2 separate regions of the Homo sapiens genome follow, and region 1 is linked to region 2. Evidence: fine-mapped expression QTL. A gene starts in region 2. The other region holds a variant in brackets. All regions are shown on one strand. Distances are from middle to middle. Region 1 holds the start of OSTM1-AS1 (OSTM1 antisense RNA 1). Region 2 holds the start of ARMC2-AS1 (ARMC2 antisense RNA 1).

Evidence for each region.
Region 1: its variant is fine-mapped to the expression of ARMC2-AS1 in blood mononuclear cells (TOPMed, PIP 0.96).

What each region holds. Positions count from the first base shown.
Region 1 is chr6:108,123,338-108,132,430 of GRCh38, reverse strand. OSTM1-AS1 (OSTM1 antisense RNA 1) reads right to left here and starts at 8,798. Exons shown (of 2, transcript NR_145458.1): 1 at 8,656-8,798. The region is part of intron 1 of LOC124901368 (a long non-coding RNA gene); the gene reads left to right. The variant A/G (reference allele first, on the strand shown) is at 5,235.
Region 2 is chr6:108,920,482-108,929,574 of GRCh38, reverse strand. ARMC2-AS1 (ARMC2 antisense RNA 1) reads left to right here and starts at 5,472. Exons shown (of 3, transcript NR_104137.1): 1 at 5,472-5,514; 2 at 6,531-6,600. It overlaps ARMC2 (armadillo repeat containing 2), which reads right to left. Exons shown (of 18, transcript NM_032131.6): 11 at 1,342-1,487. RefSeq lists an enhancer at 8,130-9,040.

The sequences.
Region 1 (9,093 bases), 800 kb after region 2:
TTATGAAACATAAGCCAGAGCTCTATTTGTCACCAACACCATAGTTTAAACAAAACCCCACCATTCCCATATCCAAAGAATCTCTATTTCCCCCGAAAGCTCTGTGCCTTTGATTTCAGTTTTATTGCATGTGTACTTAGCACACCTATGTTGCTAAATTGCTCTATATTCCTTTGCAGGTACAGCTAGAAGAGTATAAAGGCCCTCAACCAATTGAACTAAGAGACTGTTAGTAGTCAATTGGTGTAGCTCTGGGGCTGAGCTACATAAAGTGGCCCCATCCAGCTCCTCTGTCCCCCTAACTTTGCTTGATGATGTACCATGTCTGCCCCTAAACAGCATATTAGAATTACCTGATGGGCTTTAAAAAACTCCCAAGACCTGAGCTGCACCTCAGACTGATTACATAAGAATTTCTGGTGGGGGAAACTAGAGTATGGTATGTTTATTAAAGCTTCCTCAGGGGACTCCAATGTGCACTTATATATCTAAATCTAAGGTGATTTATGTAGTTGAGATTTATGAGATGAGAACTATGCTAGTTAATTTCTTTTTATTTTTTAGAGAGGGTCTCTCTCCATCACCCAGGCTAGAGGATCTCGGCTCACTGCAACCTCTGCCTCCCAGGTTCAAGCCGTCCTCCCATCTCAGCCTCCTGAGTAGCTGGGACTACAGGCACACACCATCGTGCCTGGCTAATTTTTGTATTTTTAGTAGAGACGGGGTTTCACCATGTTGGCTAGGCTGTTCTCCAACTCCTGCCCTCAACTGATCCACCACCTCAGCCTCCCAAAGTGCTGGGATTACTGGTATGAGCCACTGTGCCCCACCAAGGCTAAAGAAGTTTTGAGGTGCATGCTGGAAAATGTCTAGATTGCTGAGGAGGGGTTGTTGATAGAAATATGGACTTTATTTATTTATTTTTTTTTGAGACAGAGTCTTGCTCTGTTGCCCAGGCTGGAGTGCAATGGCACGATCTCGGCTCACTGCACCCTCCGCCTCCCAGGTTCAAGCAATTCTCTTGCCTCAGCCTCCCAAGTAGCTGGGACTATAGGTGCGCACCACCCGCCCAGCTATATTTTGTATTTTTGGTAGAGATGGGGTTTCGCCATGTTGCCCAGGCTGGTTTCGAACTCCTGGTCTCAAGTGATCAGCCTGCCTTGGCCTTCCAAAGTGCTGGGATTACAGGCGTGAGCCACCACGGCTGGCCGAAATATGGACTTTAAAGACAGTTCTGGTGAAGACTCGGAAAGAGAAGAGAGTTGGAGAGAAAGCCTTCATTTTCTTAGAGAATACACATAAATAGCAATGAGCAGAATGTTGGTAGAAACGTAGACCTCGCCAATCTGGTAAGGTCTCAGACAGAAATGATGAACAATTATTGGAAACTAGAGAAAAGGTGCTCTTTGTTGTAAAGGGAAAACGAACTTTGCTGGGCTGCGTTCTAGTGTTTTGTGGAAGGTAGAACTTGTGAGCAATAAAATTGGATATTTAGCAGAGAAGATTTCCAAGCAAGGTATTGAAAGTGAGGCGTGGGTCTGCCTTACTGCTTATAGTAAAATGCAAGAGGGCAGCGATAAATTGAAGAAGGAATTGTTAAACGAAAAGACATCAGAACTTGAAGATGTGGAAAATTCTTAGCCTATTCATATTGCAAAAAAATGAGGAATCATGTTCTGAAGAGAACACTAAGGGTGTGGCTGAGTGACTATTTAATAATGAGGTTAATGTGGATGTGAACTACGATCTAATCAGCCATCTCAGCAGAAGCCAGGAATGGAGGTAGGATTATACCAGCAAAACTTCACTAGCTGGGAGAAAACTGGCCAGAATGAAGGAAGGCTGTGAACATGAGCTATCCTTTAAGAAAGAGAAAAGTGACCTGAAGCCAGTTCAGAGATCACCAAGGCTGTCACTCCCACCACAAGCCCAGAGGCAAGACTATTTTCTCCTCAGTTTCAGAAGGCAGAGCCCTTGAAGACAGCCATATGTGCAGGGCCTTTCTCAAGAGCTGGAGAGGTGGGGCACCCTCTGAGCTGAAGAATTATTCTCAAGCCTTACCATCTAATGGAAGTTGCCTTTCCAGGTTTTGGACTTTCTTGAGACCTATCACCCTTTCCTTTTTTGCTCTTTCTCCCTTTTAGAATGGGAATGTCAACCCTATGCCTGTCCCACCATTGTAGTTTGGAAGCATATGATTTTTCTGGTTTTATGGGTTGCTAGCTGAAGAGGAATTTTGCTTCAGGATGAATCATACATTGAGTCTCACCCATATCTGATTTAGGTGATATTTAGATGAGATTTTGGACCTGAAACTTTGAGTTGATGCTGGAATTAGTTAAAACTTTGGGGGCTATTGGGGTAGAATGCATGTATTTGCATGTGAGAAGGATATGAATTTGGGGGGACCAGGAGGCAGAATGTTATGGACTGGATATGTGTGTTCCCTCAAAACTCACTTGTTAAAGCCCTAAACCCCCATGTGCCTGTATTTGGAGACAGGGTCTGTAAGAAGGTGATAAAGGTTAAATTAGCTCATAAGGGTGGGGCTGTAATTCAATAGGACTTGTGCCCTTAAAAGAAGAGGAAGAGACACTTGAGCTCTTTCTGTCTCTGCCATGTGAAGACACAGAGAAGGCAGCCACTTGCAAGCCAGGAAGAGGGCCCTCACCAGAAACCAAATCAAGCAGCACTTTGATTTTGTAATTCTCAGACTCCAGAACTGTGAGAAAATGAATTTCTGTTGTTTAACTCACCTAGTCTATGGTATCTTATTATGGCAGCCTGAGCAGACTAATATAAGAATCATACAAAGGTGATACCAATCACTGCCCCAACCCATATTCCCTTTTAAAATAACCCACCCTGGCCCACTGGTCCAGCTGCCCTGTGGGCCACATGCTCCTGGTGCCCTCAGTTTATTGACCAGAGGTAAGCACCTGACCCAGGTAACTCACCCCCACCCTGGCCATGGGCCCCTGTAACATTTCCCCCATGAAATCCACAAATTAGAGCTTCCTTTAGGTTACGAAGACCTTCTTTTGAATTGCGTCTTCTCTAGTGATCATTCATGTTAGAATGAGTTAACTTGGTCAGATAATCTTAATACTCAACTAAAAAGCTGGTTGTGACAGTAATTTTGAAGCCTGAGGCACTTCCAAAAGGGACAGGCCCAGGAAGTGTGTAGTGGTTACAAACTTTCAGGAGCGAAGGACAGCATGGGTAAGGGAGACCACGGGAGAAGTGGCTAGGAAGCAGGTTAGGGAGGGCGATGGGAGATTGAAGGATGCAAGTCAAACCTGGCCTGCATTGCCATTTCCCCCAGGCTTTCTGATCAAACGAACCCTCCATCTTTCCCATCCAAGTCATCCTGAGGGTGACCTTTATCCTAACTATCCTAATCAGAGCAAATTGTATTGTAAGGGAGTATTAGTCCATTTTCCTGCTGCTGATAAAGACATACCTAAGACTGGGCTATTTACAAAAGAAAGAGGGTTAATGGATTTACAGTTCCATGTGGCTGGGGAAGCCTTACTCTCATGGCAGAAGGTGAAAGGCATGTCTCACGTGGCAACATACAAGAGAAAAAAGAGCTTTTGCAGAGAAACTCCCATTTTTAAACCATCAGATCTCTTGAGACCCACTCACTATCATGAGAACAGCACGGGAAAGACCCGCCCCTGTGATTCAATCACCTCCCACCAGGTTCCTCCCATAGCACATGGGAATTGTGGGAGTTACAATTCAAGATGAGATTTGGGTGGGGACACTGCCAAACCATATCAAAGGGTAAGAGACCTCTTCTAACTTCCTTATGTATTGGGATAAGGGATGGTGGTTACTGAGTGGAAACGGGAAATATAGCAGAGCGTTTTGGGAAATTGTAGGTATTTCTCTCTCTCTCCCTCTCTCTCTTTCCTCTCTGTGGCCCTGTAGCTTCTTGTGTTAGCTTACCACCTGGGCAGATGTGCCCACTCCCTCTGCACAATAGCTCTCTCAGCCACAACAGTCAGGGATGGACCTGGCAAGGGGTTTAAGTTACCAAGCATCTACTGAGGAAATTCATGCTGAAAATTCCTATTCAGATTGTTAGAAACAGCCAAATATACCTTTTTTTTTTTCTATTTTAAATCCTAAATAACTAGATTCAAATTTGGATTAATGGGTACACTGGGGAATGAAGTAATCTGATTCATTTTATTTTCTGATGAAACCTTCAAGTTAACCAGAAAATGCTTTTTTCTTAAAAAAAGAAAAGAAAAACAACAGTACCCAAAAGTGTTTCTAAAATATTTACTTTTCTCTCTTTGTAAACATAGTGACAATATTTGTGTTCTCCTGGTGATGTGTGAGTCATGAGTTTAAACAGCAGTTCCCATGGAAGGGATCACAGGAAGAAATTAAAACAGAACTGGGTTTATGGGTCAGAGCATGCCTCAGCCCAGCGGTGACATCAGAGGAGCCTCAGGCATGTCACTGAACCTTTTTGAGTCCTGCTTTCCTACTATGGGGAGGGAAAATGAAGGTGGTCATGCTTGTCCTTTTCGTCAGGGATAATTACTTTAAATTTATATGTGAAAGTAATTAGTAAATTGAAAGTTATGTTGTTATTTTAGTCTTTGGCATATACCAGGGGTCCCCAACCCCCAGGCCATGGACAAGTACTGGTCCATGGCCTGTTAGGAACTGGGCCACACAGCAGGAGGTGAGCAGAAGGTGAGTGAGCATTACCACCTGAGCTCCGCCTCCTGTCATATCAGCGGCAGCATTCGATTCTCATAAAAGTGCAAAGCCTATTGTGAACTGCATAGGCGAGGGATCTAGGTTGCCCGCTCCTTATGAGAATCTAATGTCTGGTGATCTGAGGTGGAACAGTTTCATCCCAAAACCATCCCTCCACACCTGTCTGTGGAAAAATTGTCTTCTATGAAATTGGTCCATGCCAAAAAGGTTGCCAAAAAGGTTGGGGACCACTGGTACATAGGACTTGCTCTATAAATGTTTGTTGAATGATTTCTGCAGTGCTAATGAGCTCCATGCACAAGGTTTAGGAAATTGGGCTGAATCTGTACAAATCCCAGATCATACTTTGAAAAACTGTGATTAGTTTTCTTGATACTAAATTCCTCATATGAGCTTGTCCTGTTAGCACTTTCTTTCACAAAGTGAGATGTAGAAAAAAAAAAAGTAAATTGAGCGTTCAGTTCATTGAGTTCAGGTTTAACTGAGCTGCT[A/G]CTATACAATACAGTCAAGCTGCTACTATACAATACAGTCATTAATAATGTATTCTACTTTTTTAACTTATTCAACAAATATTTACCAAGGAGTATGTTGTTGAACAGGAACAAACATGGTCCCTGCCCTCATGGAGCTGACAATCTGGTAATTGAAGCACCCTCATACATTAAAAAGGCACTGGGGAGATGCTTCACCTCTCCCTCATGGGTTTTCTCAGTCCCTTCCAACATCACTTCTGACCAGGACTAGAAAGAAGTGGGGAAAGCAGGACAAACACGAGGGTCTGGCAGTCCAAAAAAGGGCTGGGGACTGAACACAAACCCCACATCAAGATTTTCAGATCACTGTTCCTGGCTGGGAGTTGGAAAGCTTGTTTTTTCTTCTTTTGTCACTGAGGCTAGAATATTCTCAGTGATCCTGCTTTTTTTTTTTTTTTTTTTCTAACAGTATCCAAATGCCATGTCTTGGTTTAACTTCAATCTGACAGTAACAAATATTTTTGAGAGCCTATGAAGGGTCAGGCACTGTGTTGGGCACTTTCCATATTTTGTCGTTAATTCTCATAACAACTTTGCAAGGTAGATACTATTACTATTCTCAATCTGCATTTGAAGAAATTGCAGCTTGTAGAGGATGTGGCCAAGATCACAATAGGTGGTTACAACAGAAATAAACCCAGTTCTGTCCTACTTGAGTGCCTTTCCTCTTCCTGCCTAGCCATGCAGGGCCTATAGTCAAACAGAACAGTGGGAACTTTGTTTTCCTATTTCTTCCCACAATAGGAGGGAAATGCTTTTCCAACACATCAAAGAATAATGATAACAATAGCTAATATTAACTGAGCAATTACTATGTGCCAGACACTATTCTAAGATCTTTACATATATCAACTCATTTAATCCTCATAAACCTATGAGTGGTTACTCTTATTATTTAATGTTATCTATCTGTCATTTTATAGATAAGAAATGGAGAGGTTAAGCAATATGGCAGAGGCAGTTTGAACTCAAGTTACCTGAGTCTAGAACTTTAAAATTGTTATTTCAGGCAGGGTGCGGTAGCTCATGTCTGTAATCCCAGCACTTTGGGAGGCCAAGGCAGGTGGGTCACTTGAGGTTAGGAGTTTGAGACCAGCCTGGCCAACATAGTGAAACCCTGCCCCTAACAAAAATACAAAAAATTAGCCAGGCGTGATGGCAGGTGCCTGCAATCCCAGCTACTTGGGAGGCTGAGTTGAACCCAGGAGGAAGAGGTTGTAGTGAGCCAATATGGTACCATTGCAGTCCAACCTGGGCAACAAGAATGAAACTCCATCTCAAAAAAAAAAAAAAGTTGTTATTTCATCCCAAATAAGTACACTACTTTCAACATCTATCACAGTTTTCTTAAGTTGCTGAAATAAAGGATGGGAGTGACCCCTCCGTCCTCACCTCCTACCCCCATGAGCAGAAGACACAATTCTGTCCACCCATAGTCTGTGTGAATGTTTCCCTCCAGCACAGTGCAGTGTGGAACCTATATAACTGTAAGCTGCAGCCATGAATTCCATCCACCATGAAATGGCACATGACCAAAAAATGCATGTACTGTATTCTAAATCTGAGCTATCTGCCTAATTTAGTTTTTGTTCCCAAGTGTAAAACATTCCAAATGTATAACATATCCCATAGATATGTGAGTTCCCTCAAAGGGTTAACAGCTCTCCTTGAGAAGAGGAATTGAAGAAACCTGAGAAACATTTTCTTTACCAGTTCAGGCAGGTGACAGAAAGGTAAAAAATTAATTTTAAAAATATGAGATGTTTGGGTCTTTATTCCCACTGGCTGGCTATTTGGGCAAATTGGGCAGTGGCATCACTGATTGGGCTCCAACTGCGGGCACAGCAGAGGCAGAAGGCAGCAGGAAATTATCAGGGCATCAGGCTGATGAATTCTAACCTCAGTCCACTAATGTCTCACCTAAGAACACGCTCCTTCTTTCTGCATCTCGGAGACACACATGAAGGTTCTCTGAAGCAGGCTGATATCCTCTAACGTAAAGGATGATATCCTATAGTTTATGGCTGGAACCATTAAGGGTGCTTGATAACTGCTCATTAAATAAATTAAGTGCCTAAAATATAATTACTGATGTTCTACTTTTCCCCTGTCTTTGCTGCACCACAGGAAAAAGTTTCCACGGCCATTGATTTATATGAGCAAAAACCAAAATTAAATTAAGAGGTCACACACCAGTAGCAAAAACAAAATGAGGAAAACATTTTCTAATGTTTTACTGCAAAGGAATCGGGGCTTTTACGTAATAGCAAAATTAGGGTTTAGATGGTAGTATTCTTTCAACCAACTTTTCACAAATATTTCCTGGAACTGGCCCAAGGAATGAATCCTAATTTAGCCTAATCTTTTTCAGATGTAATTGAATTCACTTGTTTAGGTTTCTGCCTCCTCCACCTTTCATCCGGTGGCAACACACGAGTGTGGCTTAGCTCTCACAGGGCCCACGGTTTAGTCTGCAGGCCATGTTGGGATCCACTTCTCCAGGGATTGGCCAGAGATCTCTGAGGCTCTCAGTCCTTTCTTCTACAGCTACTGTTTTCCCCCCACCCCTGAGAAATTCCTCCAGACCTTGTTTGTACTCCCCCATCTACTTATCAACTCCCCCCTCCACCTCTCTGCACCCCAATCACCAAAGTTTACTATGAAAATGAGTGACCCCATTTGCTGAGAAAGAGATAGTCTCTGGGAGCAATTGAGTGAGAGAAAACATGAACAAAAAGTCTAGAACCCTTGACTGAAATCACTTAGGATTGCACTAGCTGCCACTGAGCTGAAGCAACATGCATTCCTAGTGGCTAAGGGATCCGTGAAGCATGAGCTCGAATCCCTAGCTTTTGTTGTGTGGGGCTCAGGAAAGGATTTAGCACTACCTACATCAGGTTGGAGTGAAAGGTTTCTAAGGACGCACTCATTCCCATGATAGCCTCTGAGACCTCAGGCCTCTGGCTGGGCATCTGCTCAGCCCGGGGACAGGAAACCAGCTCCACAGGGAGGACAGGCTTGCCAGACAATCCCCACCCCAGGCAGGCACCCCCCTTGTGCTCCCGGAGCTCTCCCTGGCAGGGTGGTGGCTCGCTGACAGTTCATCAGGTTTTACAAACATTAGCTTCTACATCTGCTCTTTGAGCTTAAAAATCTCTTCAGATGAAGGCGCTACAAGGGTAAGAAGCCTGTGTCTCTCTCCTTTCTGTCCTTGAGTGGAAATGTAGAGATAGTTTTTAAAGAAGAATTTGATTCGGATGTAGAAACTTAAACAAAAAGACTTGTTTATTTCCTCTTTGGGGATTCTTTTCTCCCACTATGTGTATCAGAGGCTAATTGCTGTGGACACGCACGTGCACACACACACACACACACATACCTGCAAACACCAGCACCGGCAGTCTCTGCTCTTGTACTCACATTTCATCCTGAGGATGCGGGTGCCTCTAGAACAAGAGCCCACAGTCAATGCGGAGTAGAGTTTGGTGAGGAGCCAGCAGGCCGGTGGGCCCCCGTCTTGCCATGAGTGGTTCTTTAGGCTGGTTCTCGGCGGGAATCAGAGTCTGCGTGATTTCTGCCATGGCTTCCCAGAACCTAGTTGTCCCGTCTCCAACTGCAGCCTTCTACGTGCAACAAGGGAATGTGGGCTTCTTTGAAACAGGCTTCTTAGAGCAGGAGTGTAGGCAGCCAAGTGTGAAGGGTGTCAGCCGGGGTGGCACGCCCTGGGGGAAGATGTGGGACCAGCTGGGTCCTGGGCCAACTGCAAAAGAGGGGAAGCCTGCTATGAGAGACAGAGCAGTTCTCCAAGGATCCCACT
Region 2 (9,093 bases):
AAGCCTGGGCAGTCGAGGCTGTAGTAAGCCATGTTTGTGCCCACTGCACTCCAGCCTGGGTGACAAAGCGAGACCCCATCTCAACAACAAAAAGTGAAGGATTCATCTTATAGCAAAACTCAAATTAAATCTGTAATAGTAAGTACAGTGTGGTACAGGTCTGAGGATAAACCAAACAGAATGCCCAGAAACAAACCTGAAATTATATGGAACTTTCTGTCTGATTGACAAAATCAGTGAGAAAGGATGGCATAGTCAGTAAAAGGTGCTGGAACAATCAACTATCCACATGGGAAAAATATGAAGTTGGACCCCTACATGACACTATAAACAAAAATAAATTCCTTATGATTCTACAATGCATTAGATAGGTAGTAATTAGGTATCCAGAACAAAGCTCAGGGAAGTGCAGTATAAAAAGATCAGATCTGGAGGGAAGGAGGGGGCTGGGGCTGAAGAACCACCTGTTGGGTACTATGCTTACTGCCTGGGTAACATGATTGTCGAGACCCCAAGCCTCCACGTCATACAATTTACCCACGTAACAAACCTGTGTACCATTTAATCTATAATACAAGTTGACATTCATTTAAAAAAAAATCAGATTTGGACTCACATCCTTATACAGGGGTCCTGGGGTCAAGTACCAATTCAGTCTTCAGGAAATTTTGCATTTCTTTACAACTACAACATTATAGTTCAAGAAAAGCCTCAGGCTCCCGAGAAGAATCATTATGTAAAAATACTGACAAAGAGCAGCGCGGGAGGAAACAGAAATGCATAATTCAAAGACAGTTCTGAAATTTAACAACATCTTGCTTGGAGGCAACCTGGATTCAAATGATCATTATTTCTGGAAGAAATAAAGTAAGTGTAGACTTGACTAGTGAAAGCTTGAGCCAAAGTTCAAATAGCTGAAATAGAATAACCTTCTATTACAAAGTCACATCAGACTTTCTAAGCATTGATCCCCTTTTTTGAGTTAAAACTCTTGTTTATTTCCTAGCAAACTGGAAGGTTTGCTGTGTTTTGTATACAGTTTTTTATCTCAAATAAGCTGAGAGGAAGATTAAACACACACACGTAGCTCACAACTCACCAAAGAACTAAAATGACTTAACAACCAATGAGTTTAGAATCACAATAGAATCATATAGACAATGGGTTCATTTGTTTGAATTGTTCATTTTTAACTTGGGCCACTAGATTTACCCTTTCTGGTAGGCGAAGTAAAAAGAAGGAAAAGGATTCCTTGCCAGTCACACAAGCAAATATTAAAGATAACCCCAAATCTAAGCATTAGCATTTTTGTAAGGCTACTTCACGTCTTAGTCTACCTACCTGAATATTCTGGCAATATTGGTACAGACGTCCTTGTCACCCTTGTACTGTTCCATTGCCGTGCAGAGCTGGGGAAGGGCACTGATGTTTAGGAACTTACTTCTTACTAATGATGAATCAACCAAGTTTCTCAATGTAGCAGTCACCTAGGATAAAAGCATGCTTGTGCCATTTTTTTTGAACTGAAAAAATATAACCACACGAAACAGCATAGTACAATTCATTTCATAAATTTCCTTATATCAGTAGCTAAGCAAAGCTCCCGCTATGCATCTCCCACCAGGGAATGTGAGCCTAGGCACAAGTAGCAACAAATGAAAACAAAGAAAGCCTAATTTGGTTGAAAGGTAAAGAATGAAATATTAATCTTAGTAAGCAATTGGTATACCCCAAACCCAGGGTTAAACAAACCATCATCTAGGTTTGCTAACACTCCTAAGATCTTCAGCTGGCCCTGTGATAGCCACATCAGTTCTGCAGATTAGAAACTTCTTGTTCTATGTTTTTCTTTCTTTTTTTTTTTTAATTTTATAGGTATTCTTGTCTGATTGTTCTATGCTTTTATAAATAGCATCAGATAATGAATGATGTGGCCAAGGAATATTTAAGATCTTTAGTCTCATTCTCTCCCAAGAGACAAGTATTAAGATCTCACAAATTTGTCTTATTTTATTAAAAAAAAAATTCAGGAAAGCTATCTACTTTACCTTCGTCAAAGAGTCAAGAAGAGAAGAGTTTAGTAAATCATAAAACTAATGTTGTTATCTAATAATTTTAATATGCAGTGTGCTCCTTCCTTGTGGGACACTACAGGAAAGCTACTGGTTAAGAGCCAGTTCAGCCTCACCACCCATCAGCCTGGGTTAGTTATTTAACCTCCCAGAGCTCATTTTTCTCATTCAATAAAGTAGAGGTGATGATACTTCCCTAGCAGTTGTGAGGATTCTATGAGATAAGATGTGTGAATGGCATCGCTGCCATCATCTCTTCCTAGTGAAGTGCCCAGGGGCAGCCACTCCTTCCTCCACTTCCCCATTTCCTCATCTGTGAAAAGCAGATGACAAGCACTGCTCACCTCTCGGGGGGTTGTGTGTAGCAAATGGAAACATGTAGCACTGTTTTTATTACTTATCTAATACTGTAAAGCATCATGTAAACATAAAGCATCCTTACAGCCATAGTATATAAACTTTTAAAAACAATTTTTAAGATGACATGATTAGTTTTTCCTTATAACAACAGCAACAAAAAGATACATTAAAATATAACTGACTACCCTGAAAACACAGAAAATGTAAAAAAAAAAAAAAAAGCTTCAAATAAATGTGTACATGTCTTTTGTAATCAATTCAATTATACAATGATTCTGTAAATTCTTCCCTGAAAGTTTCAGTATCCCAAACATTGGAAGTGAAACAAACTACTTGAGTATTCCACTTAACTCCATAGATCTAAACAATGTCACAATGTAGTCTTCTTCTAAGCTAAGGAATGGACTTTTTTTTTTTGGAGACAGAGTCTCTCTTTGTCATCCAGGCTGGAGTTCAGTGACAGGATCTCAGCTCACTGCAACCTCTGCCTCCCCCATTCAAGCAATTGTCGTGCCTCAGCCTCCCAAGTAGCTGGAATTACAGGTGCGTGCCACCATGTCTGGCTAATTTTTGTATTTTTAGTAAAGACAAGGTTTCGCCATGTTGGCCAGGCTGGTCTCAAACTCCTGGCCTCAAGTGATCCAAGCACCTCAGCCTCCCAAAGCGCTGGGATTACAGGGGTGAGCCACTGCGCCCAGCCAGGAATAGATCTTTTGTGAAGACTAATGAACCATTCTAGGAATTCCATTGCTGTCATAAAATGGAAAATTCTCATCATCTGACCCCGTTTCCACCTGTTCTCCTGAGACAGCCCAGGCACCGGAGCACTACTGGTTTACATTAATTCAGAGGATGCCTCAAAACTCTCTTCCATGGAGACGGAAGAGTACAGATGCCTGTGTAACTCCCATGCAGACAGACATCATGGGAAACCATGAAATACCCATTCCAGTCACTGCACACCAACAGTTCCTTTTCCCTGGTCCCCAAGGCATCAAAGATGGGACATCCCAATCCATAGTCATCTTCACGCTCCCCACATCTAAGCTCTGGCAAGGGACATTGCCAGCAGAAAGGACCATAGTTTCCTTAGGAGCTTTTATTTTCTTGTTTCAATCTCAATTTTTTCTCCTTCTCAGGCCTTATTCTCACCTCATTAGCAAAAGTTTAGACAGCTCAAGTTTCTTCTGCCCCACATACATAACTTTCATAAATAACCCAAGTCAGGAGAGAAAGCCCACATTTATATGTGACATGTCATTTGATTGAAATTCCTACCCATTTACTGCACGTGATACACACAGTTGAGTAATATACAATACCTCACGTATTTCCAAATTTGTCATTTGTGGTGCTGGTAGAAATAACATGCATGAAACATATACCATACATTTGAAAAATACACAGCAATAGCTCAATAGATGACACCATCAACCTAGTTGCTCAAGCAGAGATATCCCAGAATCCTGCCTTTCTGCTTTCTGTTACTCCAAGCCATATTGGCTTTTTGTCCATAGCTCCCAGGATAATATTCAGTTCCCTGACCATGGTCTACAAGGCTCAACAGATCTGTTCCTTCTCAACCCGTCAAGCTTCATCTCATACCATATATGCCCCCATAAACTCTACTTAATGCTAGGTTATTTAATATTATGGTTTACTATCTGTCTACTCCTCCAGACTAGACGCTTCAGTGAAGGCATAAACCTTGTTCATCCTTTTCACCATTGTACATCCAGCTCCAAGTCCAGTGCCTGGTACATGGTGGGCGCTCAATAGGCATTTATTAATGGAATGAATGAAGGGGTGGACATCTACAAAGGAAAGACTGGGATATCAGAACACCATGGGCTAAGCAGACAATATCTCTGAGGTAGACAGATTTTAAGATTTTTTTTGAAAGCAGAGGAGTAAAAAATAATGGATGAAAGAAAAATGGACTCTGTAGTTACCCAGCTCAGGCTAACTTGTCTATGTTTAAGACCTTTCAGAGGCCGATCAGTCGCTTCCTCTTCCGTGTTAACAAAGCATCCTGTTCCTGCCTCTATAACCCCCATCCATCACAGAATAAAAAATAACGGATGAAAGAAAAATGAACTCTCTGGAAGGGGACCAGCCTCTGTGTATTTGTTCTCTAGCCTATCTCATTTCTGACAGCAGCTCCTTCCCAAGCTCCTAAACTCCCGGGCCCCACCCCTTTCCCCACCTGACTGGTCACACGTTCACCCCTTCTCTCCATCACCAGCGTCACTGGTTCAGTTTAAGCTCACTTCATCTCTTACCCAAACTCTACAGCCCCCTGGATGGGCTCCTTCCACAGTTTGCCCCCATAGCTGCTCACTGCTGCCAGAGGGGGCATCTCAAAGCTCCGCCTTCCCTGCTCAAAGGCCTCCTGCGACTTCCGGCCCAGCCAGTAGCACCCATAGCCTAAAGGTTCCTCAGTCTCTGAAGTGTGGTTTATCCCTCCAAACTCATCTCCTTTGCCTCGGCACCACCCTGGCCATCTTTCAGACTCTGCACCACATGAGGTCCTCAACCCTTCATGACGCCATGCCTTTGAATAGGCGGCTTCCTCCGCCCAGAGTGCCCTCGATTACACTTTGCCACCCCTTCTCCCCCGGGCCATCTCCTGCTCATTTTTTTCTTTTTTCTTTTTCGAGACAGAGTCTCGATCTCGGCTCACTGCAACCTCCGCCTCCTGGGTTCAAGCGATTCTCCTGCCTCAGCCTCCCGAGTAGCTGGGATTACAGGCAAGCACCACCACACCCTGCTAATTTTTGTATTTTTAGTAGAGACAGGGTTTTGCCATGTTGGCCAGGCTGGTCTTGAACTCCTGACCTCAAGTGATCCGCCCGCCTCGGCCTCCCAAAGTGCTGGGATCACAGACATGATCCACCGCGCCCGGCCTCCTGCTCATTTTTCAAAACCCAGCTCAAGATAACTTCTCTGTGAAGTCCTTTCCGAGGCTGATCAGTCACTTCCTCTCCTTCCTCTTCCGTGTTACCAAAGCATCCTGTTCCTGCCTCTACAACCCCCATCACAGAAGCATTGTCACTTGTCTTCAGGCATCTTCTCTCCCATGGTGAGCTCCTCTAGGGTACAAACCACTTCTTATTCCTCTTTCTATTCAGAGGACAACAAATGTGCTCATAAAAAGCTCTTAAATGTTCAGCTACTGGAGGGCTGGAAGAGTGAATGAGAAGGGGAAGGAGGAGGGGAATGAGGAGGGGGAAGAAAGAAAGAAGGGACAGGAGCGACAAAAGAGAGGTTTTTCCCTTTAAGACACCTCTGGCAAGAAAGTGCGGGAGCTTAGCAGAGGCCTGGGTGAACCAGGGCCTAAAACCCTGAGGGAGAAGGATCAGGAAAAGGCCACCACGCAGATGCAGCTCTGAAGGCCCTGTATCTTGAGAGACTTGTCACCAACCTCTGAGAGCCACCAATCTCACTGTGGGATGATGGTGGGGCCCTGAATGCTCAGACCAGTGGCCTTTTCTGGAAAAAATGCAGGAAAAAAAAAAAAAAAAGGGTGTGGGGAGGAGAGTCTAGCTAAATCATGTGGTCACAGTAAAGGCAAGTTCCAAGTCAACCCATTTAACTGAATTTTGCTCCTACTTTTGAATTCATTATATACAAGTGAAAATTAAAAAAAAGAAAACAAGAACTCTCAGTTGAACAGAGATAAATCTGTGAAAATTATCAATGAGTTCTGTGCTCTACAGCAGGGTCTTTATTTCCCACCCTCAAGAAAAGCCCACCCACTGGGCCCTCCCCCAAAGCAGGAGTTAACCAAAGCCCAAGCTTCATGCTTGGAGGTGTGCATCCATTTCTTTCTTAACTTTCTATTCTAATTTATATTATCTATAAATGCACAAACTTAAACACACATTTTTCTTTTTTATTGTATATAATCTTTCAAACCACCTCAAATCCCTTACTTAAAAAAAGTCTTGTTTAGTCTCTAAAGGACTTAGTAGAGAAATTCTCAACCTCTTAAGTAGCATTTCACCAAGAAATAGCACACTGAAAAACACAAGTTTTAATTCCTATCTTTTCCCCCATCTCTTAACTTGCAATCCTGTGGGACTTGCAATCCTGAAGGCAGCCCATAGGAAGAAGAAAAAAGAGAAGAAAATGACACTGATAATCCACAAAGAGGACTAATACAAATGTAAGTTTCCTTGCTTATTAGCAATTGTTAGGTGATGTTTAGGACAAAAGGGGACCTAAGGTTTTGGTAAATACCCAGGAAGAAACATTCCATTTTGCTTCTGGTTACCAATCTACTACTGAAAAATGACTGAGCTACACTTGACAACTTTCTGGTGCTCACTTTTCTGAGAAAGCTTCTTTCCATGTTCCCCAAATTATTTGATCATAACAGGTACCACCCTCAGTCAGGGAAAACACCTGGAGACTTGGCAAAGCTACCCAGCTCACATTGAATTATGTAAGCCTCAAAGTTTTCATTGTGTAGTCAGTATTGGGAGACCCATTTTAAAGGGAAAAAATGTACTAAGAAGAAATTAGATCATTTATAAATGCACAACTACATTTTAATACAGTAAAATGAGAACTCAAAAGCTTTAGCTTCTGTTTTTTTCAAGTTGACTATAGGTACTTAATTATCAATTTCAAATTGTGTTTTCAACTATTAATTAATTGAGAAACCTTAGCAAACACAGGAAATATTTGTCTTAAAATATGGGGCTGGGCCCAGTGGCTCAGGTCTGTAATCCCAGCGACTCTCATGGCTGAGGCAGGAGAATCGCCTGAACCCCAGAGGCTGAGGCTGCAGTGAGCCATGCCTTTGATCGCACCACCGCACTCCAACCTGAGTGACACAGTGAGACTCTGTCTCAAGAAAAAAAAAAGGGTGGGGGGGCCCTCCGGACTTGGATCACTGGACTTGAGGACACAACACAGGCCCAGCAGCTGTGGTCTCATTCCTGCGTTCTCTACTGCAGTGGGTGGGTGCGAGGTGGGGCAACCTCCACACACACTGATCATGTCCAGAGTGGACGGCCCTCTCTTTTCCCTCTGTGCCCTTCCTCCATCAGAGTACTCTGTCCTCAAGGAACTCACCAGATTCTGCTCTAGAAGGCAACCTGCCATCAGAGCTGCCCCAGATCAGAGGAGCTTGTGACTCATTGAAGCTCAGAAGTCTATCAGCTCCCAGGTAGGCTAGTGCCCTGGCCTCAGTTTCTTGGTCTATTGCCTCCCTACTCTATTTGGCACTGGTCTCTAAAAGCATTTTGCAATCATCTGGAATATCCACAACTGAAATCCCTCGAGCTTTGTCTCAACTTAACTGCCAACTGCAAAATTGTTGACTTCCCACTGATGATGTAAAAGAATAAACGCAGCCGCCAGAGACCACAAACAGTGTGAAATGATTTATGACTAAAGCCACTATTTTCCAACCTCAGCTAAGCCATCTCCCTCTATTAATAAAGGCAGATTCATTTCTTTGAACTTGTGCCCAATTGAGGCCACATATATGCCAAAACCAGAGCCTGTGTGGTAACCCAAGAAGTTTCATATTGTCTCATATATGATTTGTACAGTTCTGGCTGAGACAAAAGAAACCAATGACAAGATGCTGCTAGACATGTGAAATCACTGGTAACATGCATGTCTAAGCTTTTCTTGGAATTTATTAAGATATATGCATATGAAGGTAATATTAATTAATAATCCTTGATAACACTCGGTGCCTGGCTACACAGGCCTACTTGGCACATCCCTACCATGGGTGTCCGACTTAGCAGGAAATGCTTCTGTCCTCCTTAAACCTCCAATGTCCTACTTTGAGACTCTATTTAACATTTGGCTCTGTTTATTGTTGTTTCTCCATTTACTGCCTCTATGCCAGTTACTTCACTAAAATGAGTAGGTAGCTGATTCTTCTAGTTGTGGCTATGTATGTATTCAATACAGGAGAAATTTTGAATATCATACAAACAATCTAGAATGGCAATGCAGCAAAACAAGAAAAAGGAGTCTGAAAAAGATAGTGCATTAAGAACTACCAAGCAATGAAACCACTATTCACAATTATATGCTAAAGCTAGTGACATTTCCTTACTGCCACAACTAATAGATCTACAGTGAAGAGAGGAGGCTGAGCAGACAGAGCACTAATTGAGAGCAAATGGCTCTCCTCAGACACAGTAGGAGCCTCATTTCCACCCTTGATCTGTCTTTTAGCATAACACTCCTGGCCATCCACCGCCCTCACTTCCTGATTGGTGAGCTTGGGACAGGAATCAGACCCTCCCAGTCCAGCCCCTACCTGGTCCCTCTCTTCCCTTCCTCTTTTAGAAGTGAGCTGCCATCAGAACAAAGGTGTTCTGCTCCTCCAGGGACAGACATGGTCTGTGACTGGGTGGGTAAATCTAATTCTAGGACTCAGGATTAGAAAGCATGCCTGCCTCAGCTATCAGCCACATCCTCCAACCACGGTGATAACTTTATCCCCATCCCCAGCCTCCTTAGCCTCTTATTTCCAAGTAAAAAACCCAAGGCATTACATATTTAGGTTTCTGAGTCTTCTCAGATCTTCAGATCTGCTGTCCCTGGAAAATTGGAGGAGAACATGAGTTGCCTATAGACAGCTCCTTCCTAGGAAAGGGAAGAGAAGGGAAGAGGAAGAACCTGGGCC